7 linked regions of the Homo sapiens genome follow. The protein of the gene in region 1 purifies or fractionates together with the protein of each later gene. This does not show direct contact. Each region holds a gene or a part of one and is shown in the gene's direction. Other genes may lie near its edges. The genes, in order: TCEA1, DSTYK, EEA1, CHORDC1, GRHL2, DDX46 and GTF2E2.

Region 1 (3,500 bases):
TATTCATGTGTTCACTGGAGTAGCACTTTTAATTTCCATCAAGAAATTTTCCTTTGCATTCACAATTTGGCTAACTGGTGTAAGAGACCTAGCTTTTGGCTTATCCCAGCTTTCCATATGCCTTCCTCACTAAACTTAGTCTTATTTCTAGGTTTTGATTTAAAGTGAGACATGTTGACTCTTCCTTGTCCTTGAATACTTAGAGGCCATTGTAGGGTTATTAATTGGCCTGATTTCAATATTGTTGTGTCTCAGGGAGTAGGGAGGCCCAAGGAGAGGAAGAGAGACGGGGAAAGAGTGGAGCAGTCGGAACACACACAGCATTTGTCAAGCTTACTGTCCTATGTGGTCAAAGTTAGTGGTGCCCCTAAAACAGTGATAGTAACATAAGAAATTACTGATCACAGATTACCTAACAGATATAATAATAGTGAAAATGCTTGGAATATTGTGAGAATTACCAAGATGTGACACAGAGACATGAAATGAGCACATGCTTTTGGAAAAATAGCGCCAATAGATTTGCTCAACACAGCATTGCTGCAGACCTTCAATTTGTAAAAAATGCAGTAACTGCAAAGTGCAATAAAATGAAGCACAATAGCGCAGAGCAAGATAAAGCAAAGTATGACTGTAGCTGGTAAAAACTGGCGTGAGAAGATGACCCTGGCATATTCTATACATTTCTTGCCTCAAAACTGGAATCAGGCATTCCTCCAGAGATCCCTGACTTCTTTTGGGAGTGGGGTGTAGGCAATGCTATTAGAAACTATAATCTGGATACTAGAGGTACTCGTTGTAAGTTTACATTGTTCATAGTGTAATCACCTGACAGCTTCTTCCCGCCCACTACACAGACAAAACCAATTCACTGAGACTGCGCTATTGCGGTTAAGAAAGAGTTTTATTAATGCAAGGCTGGCCATGCAGGAGACGAAGTTATTACTCACATTAGTCTCCCTGAAGACTTGGAGGTTAGGGTTTTACAAGAATAGTTTGGTGGTAACTATTCCTAGGTGACTAGGGAATGGGTGCTGCTGATTGATTGGGGATGCAATCATAGGGATGTGGGAACTGGTCCTTCTGTACCTCTGGGTGAGGGGCCTGAGTTCTGGAGGGGTCAGTCTGAAAAACATCTCAAAAAACCAATCTCAGGTTCTACAATAATAATGTTACCTATAGGAGCAATTGGGGAAGTCACACACTTTGTGTCCTCTGGCCACATGACTCCTGAGCAGTGAGGGATTATAGAAACTATGTCTACATTTTAGCAGAGTTCAGGCCTGTCCCATAATCCTAATCCTCTGGCATTTCATTAGTCTTAACAAAGGTGATCTCAGGCTCTGAACAAGGAGGGATCGATTTTAGGGAAGGACTGTTACCATCTTTGCATCAAAGTTAAACTAAATTCCTTCCATGGTTAACTTGGCCTGTGCCCAGGAAAGAGGGAAGACAGCCAGCCTGTGACACTAGAAGCAAGATGGAGTCAGCCATGTTCAATTTCTCTCACTGTCATAATCTTTGCAAAGGTGGTTTTAGTAGCCTTTAAACAGTACTTAAATCCAATTTTCACATGTAAACTTTTAAGTATTTGAAGAAATTTTTAAAAGGAATTAAACTCTTACAAAGCCTTTGAGGAAAAATATTAATTTAATGCTTTTAAAACCTTAAAGGTTGATATGTGGTTTTATTATTATTAGGCTAATTGAGCATAAAAGCATTCAGGATATATATAGAAGGTGTCTATAACTGAGTGGTATTGCCCCCTACCTCATAGGAAATGGCTAGTGATGAGCTGAAAGAGATGCGGAAAAACTTGACCAAAGAAGCCATCAGAGAGCATCAGATGGCCAAGACTGGTGGGACCCAGACTGACTTGTTCACATGTGGCAAATGTAAAAAGAAGAATTGCACTTACACACAGGTTTGTGATTGTTTATAGATTCTTATTTTTATATAAAAATGCTTGCAACTCCTGTTTTAAAATAAATAGCAAAGATAATTACCAGTATGATAGTCCCTCACTTATCCATGGAGGGATATGTTCTAAGACCCTGAGTGGATGCCTGAAACCACGGATAGTACCTAACCCTATGTATACCACGTTTTTTCCGATACATATGTACTGATAAGTTTTATTTATAAATTAGGCATAGGAAGAGATTAACAATAATAACTTAATCAAATAGAATAATTATAACAAGATACTGTTATGAAAGTAATATGAGTGTAGTCTTTCTGTCTCTCACAGTGTCTTGCACTGTACTCACCCCTGTTCATTTGATGAGATGAGGCGAAGTGAATGATGTAGGCATTGTGACTAAGTGTTAGGCTGCTGTTGACCTTCTGATGATCCATCAGAAGGAGGCTCATCTGCTTCAGGTGGTCCTGCCTCATCGAGCCCTGATGATGTGGATGACTAATGGGTAGGTAGCATTACAGTGACACACACTGGACAAAGGGATGATCTGTATTCCAAGTGAGACAGAGTAGGATGGTACAGGCTGTCTTCATGCTACTCAGAACAATGTACAGTTTAAAACTGATGAATTGTTTATTTCTGGAATTTTTCATTTAATATTTTCAGACCATAGATAACTGAAACCATGGAAAGCAAAACCATGGATAACTGGGGACTAGTTCAAGAGGAGATAAGATTTCTTTCTTAAGTGTAAGAATGATTTTTTTTAAAAAAAATTATTATTATTTTTTTGCGGAGATGGGGTCTTGCTGCATTGTCCAGGCTGATCCCAAATTTCCAGACTCGAATGATCCTCTCACCTTGGCCTCCCGAAGTACTGGGAATACAGGCATGAGCCTCTGTGCCTTGTCAGAATGCTTTCTTAATACTGATTCTAGTTAACTAAAACCAAGTTGATATATTTATACTTTCACAGAAATAGTTACTATGAAAGCTATGTCAAAATTTATAAAATATAAGAATTAATAAAATGACCATGTTCTTTTTTAAAAGTTCATAAGCAATTGTATTGGTTACTAGGTAAATTGGCCATAATCCTTTTTATTTTGCAGGACTATATAATTTAAGGAAAGTTCTTCACGCTCCTCCACATGGCTTATGAGTACTTTAGGCTTAACTGTCTTCTGGATAATTTGTTCCTTTTTGTAATATTGATAACTTACATTTATGTACGATATGACTAGCCTTTTTATTCTTTAACAGCTGAAAACCGTGTTATAGTTATTTTGGTTGCATGTGCATATGTGAAAATTTTTTTTATCACTGTCTTAATTTCATTTGCCAAATAGGTTTTTGTGCTATGTTATCTGCTGTAAACTCAAGATTGTCTCCTTAAGGGACAACTTACTATGTTTCAGATAGTAGATTTGGGGAATTGATTTTTTCACCGATAGAACATTAAGCACTTAAAAAATAGCATCACTAAACTCTAAAGGGGCCTTTACTTAAAACAAATTTTGTTGGTAGTTATTTTTGTGGTTAAAAATTGAAAAAGTACAAAAGTTTATGAGTAGGAAAT
Region 2 (3,500 bases), on another chromosome or scaffold:
GAATATAAAGATGAGGTAGAAGGGGCTAGATAGTCACAAAATAAATAATCAGCTTAAGTTGACTCTGCATATATATTGAGGGGTAAGTTTGGAAACCCTGAGTCTGGACTGTGTTCTTGAAATAAGTATCATTTATTGCATTTTTAAAATAGCCACACTACTGAGGACATGTTTTCTTTGGCGTTGTCTCTTTCAGATCTTAAATGCTGCCTATCATGTTGAAGTCACGTTTCACTCAGGGTCGTCAGTTACAAGGATGCTATGGGAGCAAATCAAACAGGTAGGGATTATTACTTAGAGAAAGATTTCAAAGCCCCTAGTTGGCTCAAATGAATCATAGTGACCCCAGTAGGAAACAGATATCTAGGATCTTCTGTTAAGGCAGGGTGACCATTTGTTCTGGTTTGCCTGCCTGGGAGAATTCTGGTTTATGCCTATTCTTAAATAATTATTAACATTGTTCCCTTGAACTCTCAGAAGTTTTGGGTTTAAATGATTTTTATGTTGGGTGCTCTTTGTGGACAATGGAAAAATAGAAAAAAAAGATAAATGATATTTCATGGAGCCATAAGACTCTACCACACTAGCTTCTTCATATTTCTTTTTCCCAGCCTAAATCTTTTCTCAGAACTAGGCTTTGTTGTTGCCAGAGGCTGTGAATGTGGTTTCTGTTCTGGAATTTGATCTGGCTCTTATGTAGAGTTATTTACTGACTTCAGAAAGATTATCAGGCACTCCCTGGCACTGAATGTAATATATTGAGGGTTTGTGAGCATGTAGACTAGGCCTGGTGTTCTTTGATGCTTTTCTCTGGGCTAGGACCTGATTTTGTGGTAGATGGAATTGGAAAGGAACTTTGGACTTCGTATGGCTCCCATCTTATGAGCCTGCTCTTAATGAATGGGTAACCCAGAAAAGGAAGGACACTGGATCTTTGTAGTGGTTCTTGTCTCTCATTCCTTGGTGATCTCGCTGTCTTCATCCTGGTAGATCATCCAGCGCATCACATGGGTGAGCCCACCTGCCATCACTCTGGAATGGAAGAGGAAGGTGGCCCAGGAAGCCATTGAGAGCCTCAGCGCCTCCAAATTGGCTAAGAGCATTTGCAGCCAATTCCGGACTCGGCTCAATAGTTCCCACGAGGCTTTTGCAGCCTCCTTGCGGCAGGTTGGTATGTAGGAAAGGAGATACAGCTGGATCAAGCAGAGAAGAGCCTCATCCAGATGGGAATATTTCGCTCTCCGCTCTTCATATATAATATGTGTGTGTGTCTGTGTGTGTATACATATATATACACATATATATACACACACACACATATGTATATTAAAATCATCAGTATATTTTCTTTCTAGATTGTTATAGGAAGTTTTTTCAATAAATTTTTCATGTGGATATTTTCCTAACTCTCGGGAGAATGGAGTGAGCTCAGTTAATTCCTGCCCATTTCAGAGTGAGGAAAGATAATAGGAGTAGGAATTTTGTATGTTTATATAGTATTTTAGGAACAAATGACAGAAGGACATGACTTTCCAACTTCTATATTTCATAATTGTTTGACATCTGATTGTCCACTGGCGGGGAGTGGGTGTGTCCAGGCAGAGAGTGGATAGATGTGAGTATGCATCCAGGAGGAAAAGTTATTATTTATTGAGAGTCTACTCTGTGCCAGTCTCTGTGCTAAACATGTTACATGTATCTTGTTTAATTCTCACAATTATCTATATGAAGTAGATATTATTATCCCTGTATAACAGGTGAGGAAGCTGAAGCTAGGGACTTAAGTCATATGTACTTTTTCTGTTTCTCTCCCAGCTGGAAGCTGGCCACTCAGGCCGGTTAGAGAAAACGGAAGATCTATGGCTGAGGGTTCGGAAAGATCATGCTCCCCGCCTGGCCCGCCTTTCTCTGGAAAGCTGTTCTTTACAGGATGTCTTGCTTCATCGTGAGTCTGGTTTTCTTCTAGATAAACTGGAGGATGGTTCAGGATACCTGACATTCTTATGTCCAGCCTCAGAGAATCCTAGTGTCTAAAGCTGCTTCTTTGCAAAGCTGCCTAAACCCTTACTGATGTTTTTGAATTCCTAAAGTCTCTTCCTGCTATTTATATAGTTCAAATAACATGACCAGGCCAGGTGTGGTGGCTCACACCTGTAATCTTAGTACTTTGGGAGGCTGAGGTGGGTGGACTGCCTGAGCTCAGAAGTTCAAGACCAGCCTAGGCGATATGGCAAGACCCCATCTCTACTAAAAAAATTAGCTGGGCGTGGTGGCACTTTGCAACCCCAGCTCCTCAGGAGGCTCAGGCAGAAGATTCACTTGAACCCAGGAAGTAGAGGTTGCAGTGAGCCAAGATCATACCACTGCACTGCAGCCTGGGTGACAGAGCAAGACTCTGTCTCCAAAAAAAAAAACAACAAAAAACAAAAAACCACATAACCACAGTTTATTTGAATTAAACCAGTTAGATTATTTTCTATTGGGTTAGAATGACACTAGAATTTTATCCCTGGGCTTGATTACAGCTTCCTGACCCTAAAGGCAGGTTCACAATGAAGAATGTTACAGGGCCAGCATGGTGGCTTATGCCTGTAATCCCAGTACTTTGGGAGGCCACGGTGGGTGGATCACTTGAGCCCAGGAGTTCGGGACCACCCTGGGCAATGTGGCAAAACCCCGTCTCTAATAAAACTGTAAAAATTAGCTGTGCGTGGTGGCGTATGCCTGTAATCCCAACTACTTGGGAGCCTGAGGCAGAATAATCGCTTGAACCCAGGAGGCAGAGGTTGCAGTGAGCAGAGATCATGCCACTGCACTCCTGCTTGGGTGACAGAACAAGACTCTGTCTCAAAAAAAAAAAAAAAGAATCTTACAGAGGTTGCCCACGAAGTTCCCATTCCTCCTGCCTTATCTCTGTCTCTGTACCTTATAGGTAAACCTAAACTGGGACAGGAACTGGGCCGGGGCCAGTATGGTGTGGTATACCTGTGTGACAACTGGGGAGGACACTTCCCTTGTGCCCTCAAATCAGTTGTCCCTCCAGATGAGAAGCACTGGAATGATCTGGCTTTGGAATTTCACTATATGAGGTGGGTCCTGGCCTCATTCATCTCTATGAGAAAGATCCAGAGAAGAATCTAGAACCCTGGTTTAGATTTTGTACCAAGAGCTACAGCATGGCCTCTCTATATTTAGTTTTCTGTGTCTAACAGACATGTGCTCCCTTTCAGGCCTTTACTGTCTTTGCTTGCTCTTTCCCCACCATCCTAATTTCTCAGACTCATCATTCCATTTAACTTTCTTCTTTAGTCCTTAAGCCTTATCAGTTTTTAGAATCCAGGATTCTTCATCCTTGTTGAAGAGGCCATGCTCTGTCTGTACTGAGGGCTCTGTCTGCACTGAGGGCCATTACCTCTGGACCTGTCCTAAGCATGGTCTGGAAATTATTGTCTCATACATTGTGGCATGGCATGCAGGATTAGAGCCCAAGCCTTGTAGCC
Region 3 (3,500 bases), on another chromosome or scaffold:
AATGGTGATTAATGGAATTTAATGATTTCAGAGTTGCTATGTAAATTATTTTGTTTGTCCTCTAGCTGCCTGCCTTCAAAGGACTGGTGTTTCTTTGTAGATTCTTCTTGAAATTTAGAGAAGATACATTTTCTTCTGTGGCATGCTTAAAGATTAAAAAGGAACATTTTAAAGAAGTGAAGTAAATAATGTAGTATAAATGTAACACTTGGTTATACTATTACATATATATGTTTTTAACATGTGCTTTTAGGTAAAATATGTGATTAAGTACATTAAAATGCTAATTATTAACTTAATGTTGAGTGGAATTTATGTAGACAGTTAATTTTAAGTTCATTTCATGTAATTAGAAGTATAAATTTACTGTATATATTTATGGTTATCTAAGGAATGTGAATTTGAATTAGAGTGATATACAGATATGCAGAGTAATATATGGAAACTTATAAAACTGTCCTCCCCTTAAACTAATATTTATATAACTATCTTTAATTAGATATAAAGTCAAAGTATGATGAAGAAAGGAGTCTTCGAGAAGCTGCTGAACAAAAAGTGACACGTCTGACAGAAGAATTAAACAAAGAGGCAACTGTAATTCAAGATCTGAAGACGGAACTGGTAATTTAGGAATTATTTATTGAGATGTACTCTTATACCTTTCTAAATTAAAAATAAAATACATACCCTGAAGGAAAATGTTTAAAAATATAATTTGAGTGAAATCAGGAAATAAGCAATTCCCTATATTCTACCACCTGCATATATATTCTGTATATGATTTTTAAAATAAAAATGGAATGTTATGATACGTAACTTACTACCTTAACATTTTTGTTGTTTCTATCTAAATATCATCTGTCATTTTAGTAGTTTTCATATCTGCATCTCTGATCCTGGTCTTCTCTTGCATGTTTGTTTTATAAATCCATCTGCTTTTAGGGTACTTTGTGTTGAATTTCTAGCTTTAATTTCAAATTCAACAAGTATAAAATCAAAGTAATCATGTTTCCTCATTACTGTATTTCTGTTATTGGAACCATACATCTCTAATACTCTCCCAAGACTTAATAATCTTGGATCTGTCCTTGACTTTCTTTCCTTTATTTAGCTCTCAATAAATATATAAATTAACTACATCCAACCTGGAGCAAACTCTATGCTTTCATTTGCTCCTTCATTTTTATTACCAGTTTTGTAGGATAGAAAAAGAAGGAATGTAGCATTTTCAAGTCACTGTTATGACCAATAGATGTAGTTTGTGAAGGGAAGGAAAACAAATAAAGTAGTAAAGATAATTGTGAATTTACTATACAGCACCTTGAGTATTAATACTATTAAATATGAGGTAGGATGGGAAGAGGAAGTGGCTTATTGTGGGAGAAGATATCAGTGTTCAATGTTTGAAGTCTAAAAATTGATATTGATGATTGTTTCCCTTTTGATTCCTTTGTAGTGAAATGATTCTAAAAATGTGTATTATTTTAGTTTTTCACTTTAATTTTTAATTAAAATGTGTTGTTTCACAGCTTCAGAGACCTGGTATAGAAGATGTTGCCGTGCTAAAGAAAGAACTGGTCCAAGTTCAAACACTAATGGATAACATGACCTTGGAACGTGAGCGAGAATCTGAAAAACTCAAAGATGAATGCAAAAAATTGCAGTCACAATATGCTAGCTCAGAGGTAATGAAGTTCATTGTACTTAAATGTGATTCATATTAGCTTGTGTAGTGTATACTATTGAGTGAAGCCAGGATTTGAGATTTTTCTGAGTGGCCTATCAAAATATTTGTCTTTCTTTCATTTTTGATCTGAATAATATTTGTTTATAGTCAATGTGGTCTCTCAGTATGTTTTGCTTTATAAAGCTAGACACTCAGGAATATTTGCATAAAGATTATTATTCTGTTTAATATATATATTGTTGACATGATATTTAAGGTTAAATTTACTCAAGGTTGGTTGATAAATGGTAATTGACTTTAAAGGAAGAATGATAGCATTTTCTACAATTATATTACCAATTTTGTTTAGAAAATATATTTAAGAAAGGCTTATTTTGTAATAAGCTTATTTCTTTTTTTTTTTTTTTTTTTTTTTTTTTGAGACAAAGTCTTGCTCTGTCACCCAGGCTGGAGTGCAGTGGCGTGATCTCAGCTCACTGCAACATCCACCTCCCGGGTTCAAGTGATTCTTCTGCCTCAGCCTCCCAAGTAGCTGGGATTACAGGTGCCTGCCACCACGCTTGGCTAATTTTTGTATTTTTAGTAGAGATGGGGCTTCACCATGTTGGCCAGGCTGGTCTCGAACTCCTGACCTCAGACGGTCTGCCTGTCTTGGCTTCCCAAAGTGTTGGGATTACAGGCGTGAGCCACTGCACCCGGCCATAAGCTTATTTCTAATTGATGGACTTTGAATTATGAATTTGAAAGAAGTCTTGAACTAGTCTAAATTCAGTCCAGAACTTCCCTTTATGCCAACCCTGCTAAGTGATCCACAATCCTTGCTAGGTGGTGTACGGTGTGCATATTTCTTCCTAAGTCTATTTTATTGAGCTGACATTTGTTTCCCTGTAATTTACATGCGCTGGTTCTGGTTCTGTCCTTAGGAATTACACAGAATAAATTGTTCCTCTTTCCACATGAGGTATTTGAAGACTGCTCATATTTATTCGGAGTATTTCTCTTCCAAGATAAACATTTTCAGTTCTTCTACTATTTCTTACATGACATGACTTTGGCCTGTAAATCCCTTGTATAATATGTCAGCATTTAATAAACTCTAAGATGTATAATACATAAATGTGCTTAAAAATCCTAGCCTTTGTCCTTTTTACTTTATTATAGGAGACATTTTGTTATGACTACTGTTATTTGTAGTCTTTAAGCTCCCTTATGTAAAGTAGACCTCTGATTTTCATATTTTCAGTTTAAAAAGTTGTTACCGTAACATTTTAATTTGAATCTCTTCCTTAGAGTTTTGTAACTGGTGATCTAAAAGCCACTCTATTCACAAATATAACATGTCATCAAGCTTTGGGGTATAAGTATTATAGATAACCCATGTCTAATTCATTTTTAAAAATCTTTCTTTATCTTATGGGAAGAGATGGTGAAAGTTTGTGGATATAACACACATAGGCATGTAAGGCCTTATGATGCCTAACACTACACTCTCTAACTTATGATATTTGGATGCAGTTTTTCCAAAATTGACACTTTGTAGCCCAATAACACTTAATTCCAAAAATTTTCAAACAATTTCAGGTGGTTCATGAACTTACTGAAGCCAGTTAAAAGCTCTTGTCCTACTGGTATTATTAATCAGCAGAAGACAATGATAAATCTATAAGTACAAATGTGAAATCAAGGAGAGGCTGAATCAAAGAAGTCTCATGAGGAAAAGTGCTATTCAGATGTTAATGTCAAAATACCTAAACCAGGGTGAACCCAGTCATTTATTTCTTTGTATCAGTAAGAACTATTTTTGTTTAGATAT
Region 4 (3,500 bases), on another chromosome or scaffold:
AAAGACAAAACTTCAGTCATGGCTCATTCTTAATCTCTTTAGTAATATAATACAGTCTGTACTATAATAGTATGAGTTAATTTTTTCTTTAAATGATGGGCTGTTATTTTACTTAAAGGGCAGTGAGAGGCCAGGCACTGTGGCTCAAGCCCATAATCCAGCACTTTGAGAAGCCTAGGAGGGAGGATCCTTTGAGCCTAGGAGTTTGAGAACCAATCTGAAAGAGATCCTGTCTCTCCAAAAAAAATAAATTAGCTGGGTTTGGTGGTGTGCTCATGTAGTTGCAGCTACTCAGGCTGAGGCAGGAGGATCTTGAGATTGACTTTTTGAAAAAAAAGGACAAAGGCAGTGAGATGAGAAAAACTAAATATTTTATCCTAAATTCATTTGGTGGTATTATAACAATTATGAGGATATCAGTTTTTACATACTTTTCTTTTTTTTAAGAAGAAAAGTCCCTCTCTTACCCAGGCTGTAATGCAGTGGCATTATAGCTCACTGCAGCCTTTAACTCCTGGGCTCAAGCCATCCTCCTCCCTAACCCTCCCCGGAACTATAGGTGTATGCTACTATGACTGTATTAGTCCATTTTCACAGTTACGAAGAAACACCCGAGACTAAGTGATTTATAAAGAAAAAGAGGTTTAATGAACTCACAGTTCCATATGGCTGGGGAGGCCTCACAATCATGGCAGAAGGTAGAGCGAGTAATAAAGGAATGTTTTACATGGTGGCAGGCAAGAAAAAAACCATCAGAACTTCTGAGACTTATTCACTATCATGAGAACAGCATGGGAAAAAGGCATCCCCATGATCCAGTTACCTCCCACTAGGTCTGTCACACACCATGTGGAGATTAGGGGAGCTAGAATTCAAGATGAGATTTGGTTGGTGACACAGGGAAACCATATCAGTGACCGACTAATATTTTTTATTATTTTGCGGAGACAGGGTTCCACTTTGTTGCCCAGGCTTCAAGCAGTCCTCTTGCCTCAGCCTCCCAAAGTGTTGGGATTATGGGCATAAGCGACCATGCCTTGCCTATGTACTTTTAAAATGCCTCTTTTGTCAGTTTTTTCATCGAGGATATAGAATGAATAGCCTACGATTTTTATTTTTATTGCTGTGTTTATTAATATGTTTAATACTTATTTATTGAGTGGACTTAAATTATGTATACAACACTTAGCCATTATGAAATGTTAGAAGATGTTGTTTTTTAAACCCTACTGAAATTGCCTTGCAATACGATCGTATCTGAATTTACAGATCCATATGCCAGTGTCCACATAAATTATCTCCACTGGTAGAAGTGAGTATGGATTCACTTAGAACTTACTTATATTTCATGTTTATTATGTGCTCAGCATTGAGCTTGGGCATGGGATGTAAAAGTACATTATGGTCCCTTCCTCAGCATTACTCATCTTGAAAACCTTGGATTCCTAGTCTTTATTCCTTTCTCGTTAGTGCAACTGATTAATACTTAAATATGCTGACAATAGCGTGATTATTTGAGACTTACTATTCTAATATAAGGAGCTTTTCTGTTAAGACAGAATGTAGATACATTGTAACAATTATTTATAAAATACCTTTTAACCTTTTAATGGGAATCATTTGATACACAAAGCATTTGGCTTCTCAGAAAGCTTTTAAGGTTATTAATTTGGAGTACAAAGAAATATTTTGGTATATTAATAATGGTAATAAGGTTTCAAAATTCTCCAGCCCAGATGAACCAATGACAAATTTGGAATTAAAAATATCTGCCTCCCTAAAACAAGCACTTGATAAACTTAAACTGTCATCAGGGAATGAAGAAAATAAGAAAGGTAAGATTTTATTTTGTTTTATTGTTAATTATTTTCTGGTACAGTTAAGCAGTTATCCAAAAGAGAGAATAGTAGTTTACTGCATATAAATAGGGAAAAGTCGCACATTGTAGTTAAGAAACTTTTTCTTCTAAATGTCAGATATGATAAACTACAAATACTTCAGAACCTAATAGGTTAATTCCATATGTCTTTATTCAAAACGAGAACCTATATTAAATTTTTTTTCTTTTATGGTTCATTATTTTTTTAAGAATCAGCTAAATTTCTTTGATATTTTAAAATGTTTTCTTGTACATTATACAAAATATATTCACTATTCTCTGACTTTATACCTGGTACCATGGGAGGAAAACACCCTTTCATGATTTATTTTACAAAGTTAAGATACTGGATATAACATTTTGTTATGGAAAAAATTGTGTCCTGCATTGTTGAAGACACCAGGTCCTCAAAAGAAGAAGAAATGTGTCATATATCAATTTGGGGATATAAGCAAATCCTAGTCACAGTCGTTTTCTAAAAAGTATTGTTTTCTGGAAAAACCTAGTTTTTAAGAATGATGCCACAGCGAAGTTCTATTTTAACTTTTTAATTTGATTTTTTTTTCTTTGTTACAGAAGAAGACAATGATGAAATTAAGATTGGGACCTCATGTAAGAATGGAGGGTGTTCAAAGGTATATATCACAAGATTTGTGATGTGTTATGAAGTAAAATTTTAATTTTGAGGAAAGTGCAGTTTGCTGACTCAATTCAACAAACATTTGCATGCATATTATATATTGAACATTATGCTGGGGACTAGGGCTACAATCATGGATAAGAGACTCTGAGTAGCATCATGTCCAGTAGAATAATGAAAATAAGTAATTCCAATTCACTTAACATTTACTGAGCACTTATTATGTGCCAGACATTTTATGGGCTGGAGACATAGTATCAAATAAAGCAAACATTTCTTTTCTTATGGAGCTGATATTCTAGAATGGGGAGAAGAGCAACAAATAGGTAGTTAGATATTACAAAATCAGGATGATAGGAAGAAAATAAAACATACTAAGGAGTGCTTATCAGCAAAGCCCTTCTTGACATAGTAACACTAAATCAGAAATCTTCATGTTGCACTGGATGGATTATGTAAACCTGGGTGAAGAGTGTTCTGGATGCAGTAACATGAGCAGAGGCTTTAGAACTTGGCTATTCAAGGAATAACAAGGTCTGTGGAGCTTGGGCAAGGGTAGCAGGTAAGACAGGTAGACAGAATTATGGTGGTTCTTTTAAGCCATGATGAGGTATTTGGGCTTTATTCTAAGTATTAGGAGAAGCTATTACTTGCTTTAGGGAAGGGTTTTAGAAAGATTCTGTGACTGGTGAATGGTAAATACATGGTGATGCAGCAGGAGTGGAATTGGAAGAAGAGAAACCAGCTAGGATGCTATTGTGGAAGACCAGACAGTGGGATTGGAGAGTAGTTTGTTGAGAAGTGATTAAATGTGGGATGCGGTCAAACATACCAGTAAGCCATTTTCCTGCCTCTTGCTACTTGATATAAAACTTGCATATCCTCCAACATTTCTTCTCCCTCTCCTTTTTTCTCCATCGCTCTTAATCACTTTATATTACTTATTTTGTATACTTATTTTACTTCTGAGCTATACCATCT
Region 5 (3,500 bases), about 48 Mb from region 1:
GTGGCGGGCACCTGTAGTCCCAGCTACTTGGGAGGCTGAGGTGGGAGAATGGCGTGAACCCGGGAGGCAGAGCTTGCAGTGAGCTGAGATTGTGCCACTGCGCTCCAGCCTGGGAGACAGCAAGACTCCGTCTCAAAAAAAAAAAAAAAAGTACTTGGATAAATCAAACATACACAGAAGCATTTAAACAACATTAACAGTACCCAATCACCTGAAGAAGTGTTTGTTTCAAATGTACAGAAGATTCAAATCAGATTTTTTGGATGTTAGGTTGTTAAATTTACTTTTTAAAAAGTTTTAGATAATTCAGGCAACTGCCTCAGTTCCTCTTTATGGCTTATGGTCTAACTATAGACATACGTTTCTGGTTAAAAAATTAACTATGGTTACATAGTATTTTTCCCCTTCCTTACTTCCTCCCTTATTTAAACTAACATTTTCTTCTTGTTCCCTCCTTCCCTTCTTTCCTTCCTTGGTTTGTCTCCCTAATGTCACTTTCCTGGTTTTTTTTTCCTCCCATATTAACTTGGTGAGAACTGCACAGCTTCTGCGCATAGAGATAACGGTGAGTCTGATTTTAGGTGCTGCTATAGTTAGTGAACTTTGCTGCATTCTTTCAGTATTTACAGCATCAGCAGCCCATCCTTGTTACCTGGGCCAAGAGGTAAGATCATTGCAGCAGATGATGTCAACTAGGTTTAACCTTGGAAAAATTTGAAGTCATTTTTAGTATAAGAAAAGCCTTACCCTAAGTTAGAGTTCTCACTCATGATCCCTGGCATTCACTAGGGTACTGATACTCTCTTCCTTTTAAAGAGGTTTTCAATGACTCTTGTTCAATTATAAAAACTAGGCCTGGCCAGGCGCGGTGGCTCATGCCTGTAATCCCAGCACTTTGGGAAGCCGAGGCAGGCAGATCATGAGGTAAGGAGTTCGATATCAGTCTGGCCAATATGGTGAAACCCCGTCTTTAGTAATAACACAAAAATTAGCCAGGCATGGTGGCACGTGCCTGTACTCCCAGCTACTCAGGAGGCTGAGGCAGGAGAATCGCTTGAACACAGGAGGTGGAGGTTGCAGTGAACCAAGATCGCACCACTGCACTCCAGCCTCACTCCAGAGTGAGACTCTGTCTCAGAAAAAAACAACCAACCAACCAAACAAGAAATAAAAACAAACAAACAAAAAACAACAACAAAAAAAACTAGGCCTAACCTGATAAAGGGTAGTGATTGGTTTGGCAAACTTGTCCAGGGAAAATTCCTTAATGAGCAGCAACAGGCTGGATAGGAATTTTTGCTTTGGCCCAGGAGGACTGGTGGGTTGCTTAGTAACAACAACATGTACCTGGGAGTCCCTCAGATAGCTTCACTGGTCTTCAAATTTAGGCCTCCAAATTTCAGATTCACCCTACCATCTACCTGCCTGCATAGTTTCTTCCTTTGGATTAATTCAGGCTCTTCAGATCAGTTTTGTTTATTTTTCCATTACCAGGAGAGCACATTTTATGTTGTAAGTTTCTTATAATGGTAAATGGTAAACTGTATTATAATAGGTAATAACAAAAGTGTATATATATATTTTTTTGAGTTGGAGTTTTGCTCTTGTTGCCCAGGCTGGAGTACAATGGCACGATCTCGGCTCACTGCAACCTCCGCCTCCTAGGTTCAAGCAGTTCTCCTACCTCAGCCTCCTGAGTAGCTGGGACTATAGGTGTGCGCCACTATGCCCGGCTAATTTTTTGGTATTTTTAGTAGAGACGGAGTTTCGCCATTTTGGCCAGTCTTGTCTCGAACTCCTGACCTCAGGTGATCCATTCACCTTGGCCTCCCAAAGTGCTAGGATTACAGGCATGAACCACCACGCCCGACCGAAAGTGTGTTTTATGCTGTAAGTTTCTTACTGGAAATGGTAAAAAAAAAAAAAAGTACTGGATTATAATGGGTTAAGTGGGATAGAAATAAGAAAGCATTCCTTTGGGGATCTCTACCTCCCATCCCCAATTATACTGGGAAGAGAGAAGTGTTTCAGCTTCATGAGTTTTGGTGAGCAGTAGTAATATTATTTGTAAAAAGAGCACCTTTTGATTTGCCACATACAATACTAATCAAATAACACATTTTAAGAATTCTTATAGGAAGTGCTAGAAAAGCTGGTGCATTTCAGGAGATTTCAATGTATATTTTGAAAATAAGTCAGGGTTCTGGAGGTTGTTCATGCATTTGAATGGGCATTCAGTGGAAAGCAATCAATGCCTGTGGTAGATGAAGTACCTTATTTTACTTTGTAATGAACATGGCAATGAACTTTGTGGGGAGCACTTCACTTTCACTCCCAAGGAAATGCTTCCTTTACAAGTGTGAATGCAGATACCCTCCGGAACAGAAACGGAAAGCAAGAATTGCTTGTGGCTTCTCTTTATTTTGGCGCCAGCCTTTCATCTGAACTCTGAATATACAAATATAACTAACCCTGAGAGCCAGAGTCCCTTCTTTTTTAAGGCCCATGAATTTAGATCAGGGTTTTAGGAGACAAGGAAAGGCTGAAGTGAAGGAGAGAGGAGTGGAGAAAGGAGAGGACAGAAGGGAGCAGGAAGAAACTGCTTAACTACTGTTAAGTTGCCAGTGTTTTCTCAGTGGAGTGTGAGCGGCCAGCAGGGGCTGCTGCCGGGGCCTAGGGTGCGACAGCATGTGGCTGTTTGGCCTCCTAGATAATTGGTTTTGGTTTTAATTTGCAATCTAGAATCCTAGAGCTAGAAAGAGCCTTAGGGATCATCCAAATGCATCGTAGGGCATGTGAGTGAGCAAGTATAGGATTTTGATCTAAAAGCCTGGATTGAGAAGAAATGTAAGAAGAAATCTTACATTTTTTCTTCTGTGTTTCATTTTGGGATTCTAAGTATAAATTGAAAATTTGGAGTTTTGATTAGTTTGAAAAAACATGCTTTTTTTTTTTAAGAAAGATTGAGAGCAAGATTAGCACTGCATGTTTACTTCTTAAACCATGAACGTGAGTCTGTGAAATACCTGGTTAAGATTCTGATACCATTACTGGGGAGTTAAAATTGACTTTTCTTCCCACACTCACCCCAAATCATTGTTTTTTGGTTCTCAGTTCAGTGAGTCCCATAAAATAACTGCCTTCTGTACTTCTTGGATCTAACTTTTCAAAGAAACAAGGAACAAAGGTAGCTTTTGCCTCTTTCCTGCATTGCCAATAAGATAATTAACATAAGATCAGAAGATTCTTCTTTCATTATTTTTCATCTGTAAAATGGAATTGAACTAAATGATCTCCGTGAATAATTACCTGCTCCTATATTCTGTGTCTCATTTTCTCCCTCCAGAGGGGTCTGGGCTGGTGGTGGCTCACAGCAGGGGCCATGAACATTAGCAAGACAGGAGGTTACAGGCACAGTGGGACCTGCTTCTGCTCCCAAGCCCCCTCACCTCCTTCACCAAAATCAACGGTGGTCTGATTCAGATGGCAGACTTTTGGAA
Region 6 (3,500 bases), on another chromosome or scaffold:
TCAAGATATCCAGATTTTGATATTTCTCAAAATCTTTCCACCTTCCATTTTGATCTATGCCACCACTATCTCATGCCTGGATGATTGCTATAGTGCTGGTCTTTGCTAATCCTGCCTATTCTTTCTCCTTTTGTCCTTGCCTCCCTTTGTTTGGTTTGTTCTCTCAGCAACCAGAATAATACTTTAAAAACATTAGGCCAGGTGCAGTGGCTCACACCTGTAATCCCAGCATTTTGGGATTACATTAAGTGGAAGGATTGCTTGAGCCCAGGAGTTTGAGACCATCCTGAGCAACATAGCAAGACTCCATCTCTACAAAAATGAAAAATAAAAAGAAATAAATAGGTGGGCATAGTGGCACACGCTTTTATGCTTTTGGTCCCAGCTACTTGGGAGGCTGAGGTGGGAAGATGCTTGAGGCCGGGAGGTTAAGACAATCCTGAGCAACATAGTGAGACACCATCTCTACCCAAAAAAAAAAAAAAAAAAAATTGGTGGGCGCGGTGGTGTGTGCCTTTGGTCTCAGCTACTCTGGAGATTGAGGTGGAAGGATTGCTGGGGCCCAGTAGGTTGAGGTTACAGTGAGTAGCAATTGAGCTGCTGCATTCCAGCCTGGGTGACAGAGTGAGACCTTGTCTCAAAAAAGAAATTTAAAAAAATGATAAAAAGGCTGCATGCGGTGGCTCATGCCTGTAATCCATCCCAGCACTTTGGGAGGCTGAGGCAGGTAGATCACCTGAGGTCAGGAGTTCCAGACCAGCCTGACCAATGTGGTGAAACTGCCTCATCTACTAAAGATACGAAACTGGCTGGGCGTGGTAGTATAGGCCTGTAATCCCAGCTGCTTGGGAGGCTGAGGTAGGAGGATTGCTTGAACCTGGGAGGCAGAGGTTGCAGTGAGCTGAGATGGTGCTATTGCATTCCAGCCTGGGCAACAAGAGTGCGACTCTGTCTCAAAAAAAATAAATAAAATAAAATAAAAATAATTAGCTGAGTGGCCGGGCGCAGTGGCCCAAGCCTGTAATCCCAGCACTTTGGGAGGCTGAGGCAGGTGGATCACGAGGTCAGGAGATCGAGACCATCCTGGCTAACATGGTGAAACCCCATCTCTTCTAAAAATGCAAAAAAAATTTAGCCTGGCGTAATGGCGGACGCCTATAGTCCTAGCTACTCGGGAGGCTGAGGCAGGAGAATGGTGTGAACCCGGGAGGTGGAGCTTGCAGTGAGCTGAGATTGTGCCACTGCACTCCAGCCTAGGCAACAGAGCCAGACTCTTTCTCAAAAAAAAAAAATAATAATAATAATTAGCTAAGTGTGGTGACGCATGCCTGAAGTTCCGGCTTCTTGGGAGGCTGAAGTGGGAGGATTGCTTGAGCCTCAGAGAGTTGAAGTTGCAGTGAACTGTGAGCACATCACTGCACTCTATCCTGGATAATAGAGTGAGGCCTGTTTCTAAAAATAAAAATAAAAACATTAATGAGGTTGTGTCACTCCTCTGCTTAAAGTCTTCCAGTAGATTTTCATCTTGGTGTAAAAGACAGAGTCCTTATATAATGGCCAGTAAGGCCTTCCAGGTTTGGCTTCCCTGCTGTTTTTCTGACCTCGTCTTATGGCACGCTGTGTCACTCTTTCAACACTAGCCACAACTGGCATCCTTGCTGTTCCTTAAACTCACCAGTCAAGCTTCCTCTTTAGGGACTTTGCACTTGTGCCTTTTGCGTGGAAAATTCCCTGTATATCTACATGGCTCCTTTATTTCCTCCAAGCCTCTGTAACAAATGTCATATTTATATTGTATATAAACATACTATATACAGTGTTTGTTTCTTCACTTGTCTGCCGTCTTTTCCTTTACCGGAGTGTAAGCTGCCTGGAGCTCAAAGGCAGGAGCTTGGTCTGTTTTGTTCACTGTCCTTGCCTCTCTTTCAAGACAGATTTTCCACCTCTACATGTGTCTGTGCTGAAGCAGAAGGGTTCATTTTTTCCCTCCTAATTTTAGAAAAATTCATAAAAAGTTCTTTGAGTGTTAAATTTGTCTGCTGAAATTATTTTTAGAAAAAATGTAATAAAATGTAATAGAAGCTAATGGTGTTTGCTGAACTTAATCTTTGACTTATTGTTCTAGCCACTATCGAAAACGATCGGCATCCCGGGGTCGCTCTGGAAGTCGGTCTAGAAGTCGCTCACCCTCAGACAAAAGAAGTAAACGTGGAGATGACAGACGGTCTAGAAGTAGAGATAGAGATAGGAGGAGAGAGAGGTCTCGTAGCAGGGATAAAAGAAGATCTCGGTCAAGGGACAGGAAGCGTCTGAGGTAAGACATTAATTAATTTCCAAAAGACGAGTGATAAATTGGGCCTTCTCGGCTATAGCAGGCTTCTTGAAAAGTATGTTTTCAACTGGAGTTTGGTGGCCCAATTGCAGGCCCTTTTCTTTATCCCCTACTTGTTTGATTAGACCCAGAAGGATGTGCCTACAAAGACTCTATCAAACAGTGTTTTTTTTTTTTTTTAATCTTTTTTGAGACAGAGCCTCACTCTGTTGCTCAGACTGGAGTGCAGTGGTATCATCTCTGCTCACTGCAACCTCCACCTCCTGGGTTCAAGCGATTCTCATGCCTAAGCCTGCCAAGTAGCTGGGATTTCAGATGTGCACCACCACACCTGTCTAATTTTTGTGTCTTTAAAAGAGACGGTGTTTTGCCATGTTGGCCAGGCTGCTCTCGATCTCCTGGCCTCATGTGATCCTCCCACCTTGGCCTCCCAAAGTGCTGGGATTACATGTGTGAGCCACCGTGTCCGACCATCAAACAGTGTTTTTAGTTTGGAAACTTTAGGCTGTATTTCCTGTAACCCAAAGACATCCCTTGAAGCCCTCTGAGGGACATACAAAATGAAGTAAAAAGTAAAGTAATAAGTTATATTCAAGAGGGTTCTATTCCAATTCTGCTCCAGGAGAGCTGACCAAGGTGTTAATTTTCTTTCCTTTTTTTTTTGCCACCCTTGTTGAAATTTGTAAAATTTCCTTCCTCTCTCCCTCCTTCCCTCCCTCCCTTCCTCCATCTCTCTCTTCCTTCCTCCCTATCTCCTTCCCTTCCACTCTCTCTCCCTTCCTCCCTCACTCTTTCTCTCTTTCTCTTTCTTTCTTCATTTTGCTAAACAGTGTGTTTAGAGCAGCCTCTAAAGCAGGCAGAAAAAGGAAACAAAGCAGACCCTCTCCAAGCCTCTTAAACTATTTTAATGAGCTGTCATAGATTTAAACTAAAGAGCGCCTTAATCTTTTTTTTTTTTTTAATTTATTTTTTTTTTGAGACAGAGTCTCACTCTGTCACCCAGGCTGGAGTGCAGTGGCACGATCTAGGCTCACTGGAACCTCTGCCTCCCGGGTTCAAGTGATTCTCATGCCTCAGCCTCTTGAGTAACTGGGATTACAGGCATGCTCCACAAAGCCTGGATAATTTTTGTATTTTTAATAGTGACAAAGTTGGCCAGGTATGGTGG
Region 7 (3,500 bases), about 23 Mb from region 1:
CCACAGCTTCCTCCACTATCAACATCCTGCACCAGAAGAGTACATTTGTGACAGTCAATGAACCTACGTTGACAAATTACCACTCAAAGTCCATAGTTTACATGAGTTCACCCTTAGTGGTGTTCTTTCTGTGGGTTTGGACAAGTGTATAATGACCTATGTCCACCACTCTAGTATCCTCCTGAGTATTTTCACTGCCCTAAAAATTCTCAGGGCTCTGCTTGTTCATCCTCTCCCCTCAACCCTTGGCAGCCACTAAACTTTTTTTAATTTTTAATTTTTAAAATTATTTATTTATTTTTAAAACAGAGTCTTGCTCTGTTGCCAGGCTGGAATGCAATGGCTTGATCTTGGCTCACTGCAACCTCCGCCTCCCAGGTTCAAGTGATTCCCCTGCCTCAGCCTCCCGAGTAGCTGAGACTACAGGCACCCGCTACCACGCCTGGCTAATTTTTTGTATTTTAGTAGAGATGGGATTTCACCATGTTGGCCAGGATGGTCTCGATCTCCTTACCTTGTGGCCTGCTTCGTTTTCCCAAAGTGCTGGGATTACAGGTGTGAACCACTGCATCTGGCCTGCAGCCACTAAACTTTTTATTGTCTCCATGGTTTTTGCCTTTTCCGGAATGTCAACAGTTGGAGCCATACAGTATGTATCCTTTTCAGATTGGCTTCTTTCCCTTAGTAATATGTATTTAAGGTTTCTCCATGTTTTTTTCATAGCTTGATAGCTCATTTCGTTTTAGCACTGGATAGTATTCCATCGTCTGGATATACCACGGTTTATTTACCCACTCACCTACTGAAGGACATCTTGGTTGCTTCCAGCTTTTGGCAATTATGGATAAAGCTGTAATAAGCATCCTTAGTGGATTTTTGTATGTACATAATTTTTTGGCTCATTTGGGTAAATACCAAGGATCGTGATTGCTAGATTGATCAAATGGTAAGAGTGTGTTTAGTGTTGTAAGAAACTGCTGAACTGTCTTCCACAGTAGCTGTACCATTTAGCATACTCACCAGTAATGAATGACAGCTCCTGTTCCTTTGCATCCTCTCTAGCTTTTGGTATCTACGTGTGTGTGTGTGTTTTCTTTGGATAGGCATGATACATATGTTTTTTAACTTATTAATTTGTCTTGGACATCTTTTCAAATTAGCACATAGAGAACTTTTACATTTACTTTGTGAACATCTGTGTAGTGGAATGGATGTGCTGTAGTTAATCTGTCTTCTAATATGGACGCTTGGGTTATTTCTAATATTTTCCTTTTATGAACAATGCTACAGTGACCATAAGTCACTTTTCTGTGTGGTACTGGTATTTCTGTAGGATAAGTTTCTAGAAATAGGATTGTTTGGTGAAAGTTGAGTGTCTTTTCCTATGTTTAAGGTCATTTTTTGCAATCTGCGCGTTTCTGTCTTTGGGTCATTTTCTGTTAGTTTTGTGTTTTTTCAAGACAGAGTCTTGCTCTTGCCTCCCAGGCTGGAGTGCAGTGGCATGATCTCAGCTCACTGCAGCCTCCTCTTCCCAGGTTCAAGCGATTCTCCTGCCTCAGCCTCCCAAGTAGCTGGGATTACAAGCATGCACCACCATGCACGGCTGATTTTTATATTTTTAGTAGACATGGGGTTTCACCATGTTGGCCAGGCTGGTCTCGAACACCTGACCTGAAGTGATCCCACCTGCCTTAGTCCCCCAGAGTGCTGGGATTACAGCCATGAGCCACTGTGCCTGGTCTATTTTGTTAGTTTTTTGAAGCTCTTGAAATGTTAGGAAGAATATAGCTCTTGGTGATACGAGTTGCATATATTTTTTTGTCAGTTTGTCTTTTGATTTTATAGAGCAATGAGTTTCAACCCCATTCTGATTTCATGGTCTATGGCTCTTCGTCACTATAATTATGCTACCTGGAATAATACATGTTTTTCATTCCTGAAGGTTTGTTTACATGTAACTATGATTTAATGCATCTAGCATTTTGAAACTGTCTTCTAATAACAATTTCTTCACTTGATAGACACGGCATCAGCGAGGAGATACGCATCCTCTAACCTTAGATGAAATTTTGGATGAAACACAACATTTAGATATTGGACTCAAGCAGAAACAATGGCTAATGACTGAGGTAAGAATTTAGTTGATTATCAAGAGAGATTTCCTGTAACTAGAATTTTCTTTTTTTTTTAAGACAGAGTCTTGCTCTGTTGCACAGGCTAGAGTGCAGTGGCATGATCTCAGCCCACTGCTGACTCAGCCTCCCGAGTAGTTGGGACTACAGGCATGTGCCACGATACCAGGCTAATTTTTGTGTTTTTAGTAGAGACGGGGTTTCACCATGTTGGCCAGGCTGGTGTTGAACTCCTGACCTCAAGTGATCCGCCCACCTCGGCCTCCCAGAGTGCTGGGGTTATAGGCATGAGCCACTGCGCCTTGCCTAGAATGTTTTAATATGGTGAAATCTGATAATGCTTTTTACTTTTTCTTAAAAGAAATGGTGTAGGGTCTTTGTTTTTTGAATGTACACATTTATAAGATTGATTTGTTGGTTTTCATATAATTTTATGTTATCTGTTTCAAAATGTTAAAGGTAAGACTTTGTGTAATAGTTGTAAAGAAGTCATTGTACCAATTCGACTTAATGTTTTTACAGATTAATGCTTATTTTGTATTGCCAGATTTATAGTTTGTGTGCTTGTAAATTGAATTGTTTTTGTTTTAGGAAATTTAAAGCATAAGGTACTGCAGGGATAGGAAGATATTTTGTTGCACAATTACTGCTATTATGGCTTGATGTGGAAAAAAAGTCGCGAATGCTGTGTATGAACACACATCATTTGAAGAAACCCCAACGCAGTCAGTGACCATGCTAATTTGGAAATGAATAGCATTTAAAAATTCAAATGTTTACCGCTTTAAAATATGAAGTGAAAACTAAGAAGACTACTTTCTAGGACCAGAGATAGATTCTAGAAACCAAATGTAAAATTCCTAACATACAATTCATTTATTTTTTTACCAAGCAAAATACAGGTCTTGACTTTTATAATGTAACATGACCATTAATCAGTATAATTGTAGTTCATTGTATTAGTGATACACAAACAATGGTAATCCACATTTAAATTTGCTGGTTTAGCTAACCTTGAGAATTCATAGACTACCAACATTTAGTTAACAATGACTTTGATCATTTTACTATTCTATTCTCCCTTTTTTCTTCTTTCTGTGTTTCTTCTCTTTCTCCTTTCAGGGTCAGGCTGGCAGCTGCAGAAGAAAATATATAGGGTTGCTCTTTTTGAAGAGCTTTCCTTCTGATACTAACTGTACAACAGAACTGACTAGAAACATAATTATATTCAGTAATTCCTGCATTCCTACTCAGTTTCATTCTCAAGCTGACATTATAGGTAAAGTTCTTGTATGCACTAGTCTGGTCCTTTTCAGTTCCTTCCACAGCTGCCATTGCCAGTTGATAGCAGATGGGGAAGACCATTGA

What was found.
Region 2: the proteins of TCEA1 (region 1) and DSTYK purify together in Homo sapiens (affinity purification with mass spectrometry; one large-scale study listed by BioGRID and IntAct). This does not show direct contact.
Region 3: the proteins of TCEA1 (region 1) and EEA1 fractionate together in Homo sapiens (co-fractionation; one large-scale study listed by BioGRID). This does not show direct contact.
Region 4: the proteins of TCEA1 (region 1) and CHORDC1 fractionate together in Homo sapiens (co-fractionation; one large-scale study listed by BioGRID). This does not show direct contact.
Region 5: the proteins of TCEA1 (region 1) and GRHL2 fractionate together in Homo sapiens (co-fractionation; one large-scale study listed by BioGRID). This does not show direct contact.
Region 6: the proteins of TCEA1 (region 1) and DDX46 purify together in Homo sapiens (affinity purification with mass spectrometry, with the first as the bait; one large-scale study listed by BioGRID). This does not show direct contact.
Region 7: the proteins of TCEA1 (region 1) and GTF2E2 fractionate together in Homo sapiens (co-fractionation; one large-scale study listed by BioGRID). This does not show direct contact.

Annotation. Positions count from the first base shown.
Region 1 is NC_000008.11:53,977,449-53,980,948, reverse strand, and holds part of TCEA1 (transcription elongation factor A protein 1), read left to right. Parts: intron 1-1,777; coding exon 1,778-1,924; intron 1,925-2,251; exon of another isoform or gene 2,252-2,426; intron 2,427-3,500. Other genes in the region: LYPLA1-TCEA1 readthrough, read left to right, coding at 1,778-1,924.
Region 2 is NC_000001.11:205,159,703-205,163,202, reverse strand, and holds part of DSTYK (dual serine/threonine and tyrosine protein kinase), read left to right. Parts: intron 1-196; coding exon 197-280; intron 281-990; coding exon 991-1,167; intron 1,168-1,815; coding exon 1,816-1,945; intron 1,946-2,932; coding exon 2,933-3,089; intron 3,090-3,500. UniProt on the Homo sapiens protein: Acts as a positive regulator of ERK phosphorylation downstream of fibroblast growth factor-receptor activation. Involved in the regulation of both caspase-dependent apoptosis and caspase-independent cell death.
Region 3 is NC_000012.12:92,849,296-92,852,795, reverse strand, and holds part of EEA1 (early endosome antigen 1), read left to right. Parts: intron 1-499; coding exon 500-621; intron 622-1,529; coding exon 1,530-1,685; intron 1,686-3,500. UniProt on the Homo sapiens protein: Binds phospholipid vesicles containing phosphatidylinositol 3-phosphate and participates in endosomal trafficking.
Region 4 is NC_000011.10:90,209,550-90,213,049, reverse strand, and holds part of CHORDC1 (cysteine and histidine-rich domain-containing protein 1), read left to right. Parts: intron 1-1,731; coding exon 1,732-1,835; intron 1,836-2,455; coding exon 2,456-2,514; intron 2,515-3,500. UniProt on the Homo sapiens protein: Regulates centrosome duplication, probably by inhibiting the kinase activity of ROCK2. Proposed to act as co-chaperone for HSP90. May play a role in the regulation of NOD1 via a HSP90 chaperone complex. In vitro, has intrinsic chaperone activity.
Region 5 is NC_000008.11:101,498,939-101,502,438, forward strand, and holds part of GRHL2 (grainyhead-like protein 2 homolog), read left to right. Parts: intron 1-3,500. UniProt on the Homo sapiens protein: Transcription factor playing an important role in primary neurulation and in epithelial development. Binds directly to the consensus DNA sequence 5'-AACCGGTT-3' acting as an activator and repressor on distinct target genes.
Region 6 is NC_000005.10:134,761,779-134,765,278, forward strand, and holds part of DDX46 (probable ATP-dependent RNA helicase DDX46), read left to right. Parts: intron 1-2,125; coding exon 2,126-2,314; intron 2,315-3,500. UniProt on the Homo sapiens protein: Component of the 17S U2 SnRNP complex of the spliceosome, a large ribonucleoprotein complex that removes introns from transcribed pre-mRNAs.
Region 7 is NC_000008.11:30,613,237-30,616,736, reverse strand, and holds part of GTF2E2 (transcription initiation factor IIE subunit beta), read left to right. Parts: intron 1-2,021; coding exon 2,022-2,129; intron 2,130-3,500. UniProt on the Homo sapiens protein: Recruits TFIIH to the initiation complex and stimulates the RNA polymerase II C-terminal domain kinase and DNA-dependent ATPase activities of TFIIH. Both TFIIH and TFIIE are required for promoter clearance by RNA polymerase.